Linked DNA regions of Homo sapiens: region 1 is linked to region 2. The links come from fine-mapping of genetic effects on gene expression. A gene starts in region 2. The other region holds a variant in brackets. All regions are shown on one strand. Distances are between the middles of the regions.

Region 1 (4,399 bases), 16 kb before region 2:
CTGTCATTAATTCATGTGGTTCACTGTGAAAGTCATGGACTTCTTTAAACCTAGATTTCCCCTTATGACATGGTACAAGTAAGCCTAAAGTTAGATAAAATCATAGCCTATGATGAGCTAATTTAAGCTTCAATCTGTCTCTGTCACTAGCCAGTTCTGTGGAAATGGACAACTCAAGTAACTTCTCCAGGTCTCAGTGTTCCCATCTAAAAAGTGGGGTTGTAGTGGGCCTCTACAGCTCTTGACTTCTATGAGGCACACCGAGTCCTCACATGCCAACATAAAAAAGGAAATTTCAAAATTGTCTTTGTTTTTTAACAAAGTATATGAGGGGATTATTCCAGTTCTCTATGAATAATATATATATTTAAAGAGCCTATGTTTAAAAAATTAAAATGCTTTAAAACATTTTCTAGATGGCCTTACAAATGGAAAAAAAAAGTATTCCTAGCCAACCCTCTGTCAGCAGAAAGGCCACACAGAAAAAAGCAAATCACAATTCTTTACCCCTCTCAGCATAAATCATTACTCACCGTGGGAAAATGATTACTTGCCAGGAAGTAGAACCTATGAATCATTATACTGTTGTCCTCGACCTCTGATAGAGCAAGAATTAGGGGAAAGACTGAAAAGCTGGGGAGTGAACTCTGATTTGACAATAGTTCCACTCATGGCATCGTAAGGCAATGAAAACAGAAAGCTGATCGAGCCGTAGGGCTGTCAAGTCCCGGTGCTGCTGCAGTGCACGTCTGAACCCAGAGCAGAATGACATGGGCCCCTGACTTTCTGAGTCACTCCTTGGGTCTGAGTCTTCACAGCCCCAGAGTCATTTATCAGCAAATAGAAACAATGCCATCCCTGGGCTTGTCCCGACAGTCAACCTACTTGTTAATGCCTGTGTAAGAGATACCCAGCTTGGAAATAGGAGCAAAAGTCACAAGGAAGGGATTAAGTTGCCTAACATCAGCATTCATTTCCTAAAATAAAAACACATGAAAGATAGACACCACAAATATGTGTTCCCTTGTGGTATCAGCAAATATTGTGCTATAATTTCTCTACTGTTGCTAATAAGCTATGGCACACAACTGTAAATTCTTTTTTTTTTTTTTTTTTTTTGATACAGGATCTTGCTCTGCCATGCAGGCTAGAGTGCAGTGGCACAATAATGGCTCACTGAAGCCTCGACCTTTCAGGCTCAAGCAATCCTCCCACCTTGGCCTCCCAAATAGGTAGGATAGGGCAGGTGTGGTGGCTCATGCCTGTAATCCCAGCACTTTGGGAGTCTGAGGTGGGAGGATTGCTTGAAGCCAGGAGTTCAAGACCAAATAGCTAGCACTACAGGCATGAGCCGCCATGCCCAGCTAATTTTTGAGTCAGGGTCTCACTATGTTACTCAGGCTGGTCTCAAACTCCTGGGCTCAAGCGATCCTCCCACCTCTGCCTCCCAAAGTGTTGGGATTACAAGCATGGGAGCCACCTGTAGGTGGGTGAGGAGCAGTGATCCTCCCACCTCTGCCTCCCAAAGTGCTAGGATTACAGACATGGGAGCTACCACACCCAGCTTGCAAATACTTTTTATATTATGTTTTTCTACATGGCCTTTGATGTCTTTAGAAAATGTTTGTTTTAAGCAAGGATCTTTTTGTGACTAAAAGCACAGAAAAATACAACATAGTTAGTATGTTACACACCAAATATACAAAATCCTAGAAACTTATAGAAGGAGATAGGAAAATTGATCTTATAACTAATCTGAATATTGTTCTCTACTTTCCTTAATGTTTTTAAAGGTAGTGAAAGTAAAACTATATTGTTCTGATGATGTAGAAGGGAGAATGTTTAAAATTCCTCCCAGTTTCAGGAGGAGATATTAGAACCTGTCTTTATTATACTGCATTGATTAGAGGGAAGAGGGTATTACAGCCAAAGTGTTACCTAACCATTAGACTTTCACTGTATTTGATCCCACCTTCTTACTAGTTTAAATAAAATTTAAGCATGTACTACCATATATCTATGTTTTTATTTATGAATGACATAATCATTATTAATTTATTGTGAATAATATAAATCATTCATAAAAATTCATCTTTTTAAAGATTATATTTATTAATAATGATACATTTATATATTTTTATTATTCTCTTTTTCTGTACCTCAATAGATCATGTGCACCCCACTTTGGGACCACTGACCTTTTAGCTTGCTTGTCATGATAGAAGTCATCTACTAAAGGAACTCTGGAATGTTTGAGTCTCTAAATAATCTTGTTATAATCCAAAATAGCCTGTTAATTTCAAGATTGATCTTCAGGCGACTAAACTAAGCACTCATAAGAAATCACAAGGTAAAAGAGTTCAGGTCACTGTTTGGTTAGCTTACAAAGAGTTACTTCTATTTCCCTAAATGTTTTTGAATCACTGCCCTTTGGCT[C/T]TGAAGGGACAACTAAATATCATCTCATCAGTAATGCCATTTTCCCTCAAGTGTCTTTAACACAGAGCTGTTTCTCTAGAAGAGAACAAGGTTATATAAATGGGAGAGAACATGTCTCCCTCCAAGATAGTTATGCAACATGGGGAAGATTCCACAGAAGAGAGACAAGGCTGAACAGAGATGATGGTTCTTTTACTTGGACATGGTGATAACTTGAGTTTCTAGATAAACTTGAGTACTATTACTCAGTACTGGTACTGTTGGAAGAACACATAAAACGTCTGGCACAATCAGTGAAAGAAATATGGGCCTGGGTCCGGGTGTTAAATGGGTACAGGAAAGCACTAAACCTCTCACACTCACTCTACACCTACATGCCCCAAATCACAAAATTCCCCTACTTGAAGAGCGTACACTCCCCACTCAATTCACTTCCCATTTAAAAGTGTATTTGTTTGCTTTTCTAAAGATTCCTAGTGGGTTGGGGAAACTCACTAAACCACTATTAACACTTAGTGTGACCTTCAGGAAGAGGCCTCATGGACTAATAAATGTGCTAAGAGGATCTGAAATGTTGGTGATGGGGGTGTGGCAGAGAAGGAAGGATGAAAGGGAGAAACCCGTTTAGAAAGCCTATTGATTTCTAAGGGGGTAATGCTGGGGTGGGGGAAAGTAGTGAATAAATTATCTGACAGGCAAGCAACATCATTCACACTTTTGTTTAGAAATCATTCTAATGACAGCCACCCTAAATTTTGGTTCTATGTTGGGTTAGTTCCACAATCACTGAAATGAGGAAGTGAGCTCAACAATTTTGTAAACCTCAGAGTTGACAAGAAGTTATGAAAATTCCCAGTGGGGTTACATTAGACTCTAGCACTTACTTAAACAAGGAAAAGCAGGGAGATTCCATTGATGAATCATATCTAAGGGACAAGGGAGGCTGTAGGGTTTTCTCAGACAAAATGGGTCTTTACAAAATTGGAGAGAACCAAATGGAGTTAACAAGTTTGGAAGATACAGGTGTATTTCCCATAGAACATGAGAATGAACACTAAATGAGAAATTCTTGGAAACAAAGACTGATGCAAGAAGAATGCCTGGTTGGAAGTGAAAAAAGCAAGAGCAAAGATGCTGGTTCTGAGGCCAGAGGCAATGTTGGGGAAGGATCTTGGGACTGAGTCAGCTGGGACCAAGGAAGAGCCAACCATACCTGGATGGATTTAAGGAATGCTAAGACAGGTCCAAAGTTGGAGAGAAGAGGTAACCAGAGAGCCTGAGGACAGGGCCAGACACTGTAATACCAAATTCCTTACAGAATCAGCAGGGTAGCACAATGTCTCCAGGGCAGGAGAGATGACCTTGCCAGAGGTATTTTGATGGTAGAGGCTGAAGGAGACAGAGATTAAGTGTACCGAGAAGAAGTACATTTATGGGAGACTAACATAGATGAAAATTTCTTGTAAAGTTTTTTCCTGTTGAACACATCTGCTATAAAGGCTTTGGCATCAAATTTTGTATGATACAAAAATCATAACAGCACTGAAGTGACTAATAAATGTGTAATGTCAAACCTAATGTGAGCATAAAAAACTTTGAACACCTTAGATGGTAATTTGGAAGGTTCTAATTGCACCTTGACAACAAAACATAAACATTAGAGTCTACATGATGTCAAAACATCTGAATGGAAAAAGAAAAATAAGCATCTTTTTCTGCAAAGCCCAAACATTTGTATATTTTGGAAGACTAAATATATATTTGATAAAACCACAGTATATAAAGTCAAGGCATTTTATGATCTTCCTGGATGTAATTATTTTCCATGACTTTGTGTAATCATGGTAAAATAGTGATAGTTCAATAACTGATAACTAACTATAATAATAATTAACATGTAACAGTGACTGAGTTTCCAAATAACTGTATGATGTATGTATTTTTAGTGCCTGTATTTTGTACA
Region 2 (4,399 bases):
TAAAGCACCCCTGGAAGTACTACCCATGCCACTGTGCTTGCTGAAAGCTACAATTTCCCCCGTGTGTGTATGCTACCTAACCTTGCTTACTTCTGCCCCAAGCAGCACATTGTGGTAGGCAGAATTCTGAGATGCTCCCCAAGATTCCTGCTTCCTGACGTACACACCCTCTACAGTACTCTCTCCTTGAATGTGAGCAGGACATGTGAATACAATGGGATGTCACTCCCATAATTACATTCTATTATATGGCAAAAAAGGGTTTTGAAAATATAATTAAGGTGTCCAGTTAGTTGGCTGTGAATTAATCAAGAGTGAGATTATGTTGGGGTGAGCCTGACTTAATCAGGTGAGCAGTTAAAACAAAATAGAGATTCAAAGCCAAAGTCACTTTCCTGTTGGCTTTGAAGGAGAAAACTGCCATGTTGTGGAGAGGGCCACGTAGCAGAAAATGGCAAGAAGCCTCTAGGAGCTGTGAATGATCCCTCATTGATAGCCAGCAAGAAAGCAAAGACTTCAGTCCTACAACCACAGAAACGGAATTCTGCCAACAACCAAAAAGCCTGAAAATGATAACTGATAAGATTGTAGCCCTGGCCAACTTTTTTTTTTTTTTTTTTTTTTTTTTTTTTTTGAGATGGAGTCTCACACTGTTGCCTGGGCTGGAGTGCAATGGTGTGATGTCAGCTCACTGCAACCTCCGCCTCCTGGGTTCAAGCAATTCTCCTGCCTCAGCCTCCCAAGTAGCTGGGATTACAGGTGCCCTCCACCACACCCAGCTAACTTTTTGTATTTTTAGTAGAGACGGGTTTAAGCCATGTTGGCCAGGCTGGTCTCAACCTCCTGACCTCATGATCCGCCTGCCTTGGCCTCCCAAAGTGCTGGGATTACAGGCATGAGCCACCGCGCCTGGCCCATCCCTGGCCAATATCTTGATTTAAGCCTTGTGAGAGCTTGAGCAGAGGATCGGCTAATCCATGCCCATACTCCTGATTTGCAGAAACTGTGAGCCAGACAATGATGTTATTTTAAGTTGCTTAATCTGAGCGTGCAGCAATAGAAAATTAATATTTGCCTTTGCATGATGGAGCCCAGTTTACTCCTCAAATTCAAACTGCAAGAGCTTTGGGAGAATTACATTGTTAGCTTTCCATACTCTAAAATTCAATAAGACAAGTCAGAAGTGGTTGTTGTTTATATTAAGTGAGTCAATCCCTAGTGTCGTCCACCCACTTTTTTTGAAAATTATTTTCCAAAATATCTTTTACAGCCTATATGATAGGCTAAAAGATGTCATTTCATTTTTTGTTTGTGTAAAATGGCAAAGATCAACCTGTCCTGTGAATGAGTATTCAAGAAAAAGTAATTAACATTGCTATCAGCAATTTCCTTGTATGCATCAACCAGTTGGGTGAACTCATATAAATATTCCTGCTGATTTCTCTATTAAAAAATGCTTAGAGAATAGACAATTTAGGAGATTACTGCTACTCCAGGAGTGGCCACTTTAGCAGGACTGTTGACATGGAGACTTTCCATGACCTTACACACATGTTGATAAGAATGCCTGTGGCCTCTGGTTCTCATCAGTATTGAGTAGATTGATAATATTCTCAGTGGTCTTCTCATAGCGAGTCCAGCAAACCATCAACAAAGTAAAGCTAATAAGAGAGGGATTTTTTAAAATCTTTCAGCAGAGAAGCATTAGGGCAAGTTATATTTATCTGATCATGTACTACTATTTCTCCCAGGGAGTGTGAGAGGATGGGGAGCCGATAGTGTTCCATGAAAGTAGAAAAGTTTTCTGATTCACCACAAAGATGAATTTGTTTTCCACATAATGAATGTGTAGTATTTGATTCTCCCCACACTAAAGTGGTTCGGTTTATTTTTACATCAAGTAAATTTTAGCCATCTCCCTTGCTTTATTAATACTCTCTAACCCAATTTCCTTTCATTTCAAAACCACCAATGGTGAGGAAGGGTAAACAATAAGAACGACATGTAAGAAATTGTGGTATCCAAAAACAAAACGAAAAGCCCTATTTGCTTTACCTCATGTCGTAATTTCCCAGACTTGTTCCTCTTGGCAGTGTTGAGCTCCGCGTTTTCTCCCAGGGAGCAGAGCAACTTCTTACAAAACCTTACTTCGTGGGTTTTCCCAGGTGCCTGTTATTTCCTGAGCAGCACATAGTAGCAGTCCCTTAATCTTTACAGTTCTGAAAGTTGGCAAAGTGCCTTCAGAAAGTCTTGTCTTATTTCAATTGATTCCTTTGCAACAACCCAATAGGAGTCAGGACATGTATCATTATTTCCAGTTTATAAACAGCAGAAACTTCCATTTCTAGAGGTACATAACTGGCTTACACTATGATAAGCCACGACATGGAGATCAGAACCCAAGTCTTTGGAGTGTAAATGAGGCAGTCTTTCCCCAGGACTCCTGTCCTCTTACCAATACATCAGTGAATGGCTGGAAATAAAAATTTAATAGGCAATGACTTCCTGCTGTTCTCTAGTCTTGCCTACCCAAATCCTCTTCACACTCAGAAAATGCACATGAGACACTATTGACAAAACTAAGTACAAGTTTCGAAGCATTGACCTTTGAATAGGAAGGAAAAAGAAAAAAGAAATTTGCAAGCATAAATTTGTATACTGCTTACCTCATAAGTTTTACCCTTTTTCCTCCAGACCAACCATTTCTTATAGTCTGTTCCTAACTCCTCCTGGCTTCTGCCTAGACTTGCTGCTGACAGCCTTTTTTGTCTGAGTAAGTTGTATTTGCCCCTGCAGACTCTGCTCAGACTTTTCCCAGGCTGGTCAGGAGAGTCCTCTTCTGATCCAGTCTATTTCTCTTCTTATCAAATTATTAAAATTTCTGCTAAAGTGTACATAACCCTCTATAGGATATGAGCCCATTTACGTTTCTTATTTATCTTGCGTCCTCTGTATTTAACTCAGTGCAGGGAATTTCAGCACTGAAATGTCTGTGGAATTAGGATTTAATAAGCAATGGTTTTATTGGCTAGGAAATAGCGGCAAACAAAGGTGAGCCTCCAGAGGTGTAACTTCCCTATCCAAACTTTCTCTGTGGGGACTGAGAACCTAGGAAGGGAATGAGTCACCTCCTTTTACACGTTGCCATGAGTTGGTCTAGAGAGGGGAGTAGAACAGACGGAGTGAGGCCAAGGGTCCTAGGATATAAGGGTACACCTGTGGGTACTGTGGTGACCATGGAGGTGCCCCATTCAAATCTTCCTTCCAGAGGACCCGCAGCAGAGAAGAGAGCTGACTAACAGCCTTCTGATGCCCCACCTTTAAGCTGGTTGCAGCGTTCAAACCAGATGCTACTTTCCACGGGCTGCTCCCAGATAATGGCATAGTGCAGTGGGGATAATAGGACCAGGCCACCTCTGCCTGACACAGAACTCCTCTAATGAGAAGCTTCAGGTCTTGGAGCCGGGGGATCCTCACTGGCCTGGCAGAGACATTCTTAGAGCTGCACTGTGGTCTGAGGCTCCTCCCAACTCCGTCCTTCCTTCTTGCTCTCCTTTCTCAGACCCGCATCAGGGGCTGAAGGCCATCCCCGACACCTCATGCTCCCTGCCCGTTTTTCCTAATAAATCTCTTGCTCATCTAATCCCATTTTGACTGGGTCCTTTTTAGAGGACCCAGACTGACAGAGATACTTCAAGATTTAGGGCTAAAAGTGTATTTTTTAAATGCCACTCAAAATCTGTAGACCACTATCCAGAATTTAACAATGCCCTACTTAGTCTTGAGCTGTGTAGTAGTTTAGAGTTAGAGCTTAAAATACAAGATAGAAAAATAGGTTCTGCTTCTGCACATCTGAGGTACACACAGGCAAAGTGGAGGGGCAAAGGAGCCCAGGCTGGCCTGCCACTGGTGCAAGAAGGATCAGGCTGCTGTGGAATCCTGTGACAACTGGACTGTGGCCAAGTCATCGGGGTACCACATGGGTTGAGGAGCACGGAGCAGGCCTCTGACAGCCACAGAATATAAATAACACAGCTGCCTCCGCCACTAGCCAGCTGAGGAGAGCCACAGAGAAGAGGAGAGGGCAAGAATTAACTTGCGCATCAGCCCCTGAAATGGACTAACACTTCCATTGTTACCTTGTTTTTAAAATTTTAATTTGGTATTTTGGCCGGGTGTGGTGGCTCATGCCTGTAATCCTAGCACTTTGGGAGGCCAAGCTGGCAGATCACCTGAGGTCAGGGATTCGAGACCAGCCTGGCCAACATTGCGAAACCCTGTCTCTACTAAAAATTCAGAAATTAGCCTGGTGTGGTGGCACATGCCTGTAATCCCAGCTACTTGGGAGGCTGAGGCAGGAGAATCACCTGAACCCAGGAGGCGGAGGTTGCCGTGAGCC

The links. PIP is the estimated chance that this variant, and not a neighbour inherited with it, causes the effect.
Region 1: its variant is fine-mapped to the expression of LINC02541 in sun-exposed skin (GTEx, PIP 0.94).

Annotation. Positions count from the first base shown.
Region 1 is chr6:113,631,767-113,636,165 of GRCh38, forward strand. The region is part of intron 1 of LINC02541 (long intergenic non-protein coding RNA 2541); the gene reads right to left. Among named protein-coding and RNA genes, the nearest start is that of LINC02541, 16 kb to the right of the region's middle. RefSeq lists enhancers at 540-589, 3,155-3,204. The variant C/T (reference allele first, on the strand shown) is at 2,437.
Region 2 is chr6:113,647,349-113,651,747 of GRCh38, forward strand. It overlaps LINC02541 (long intergenic non-protein coding RNA 2541), which reads right to left and starts at 2,727. Exons shown (of 3, transcript NR_125844.1): 1 at 2,667-2,727.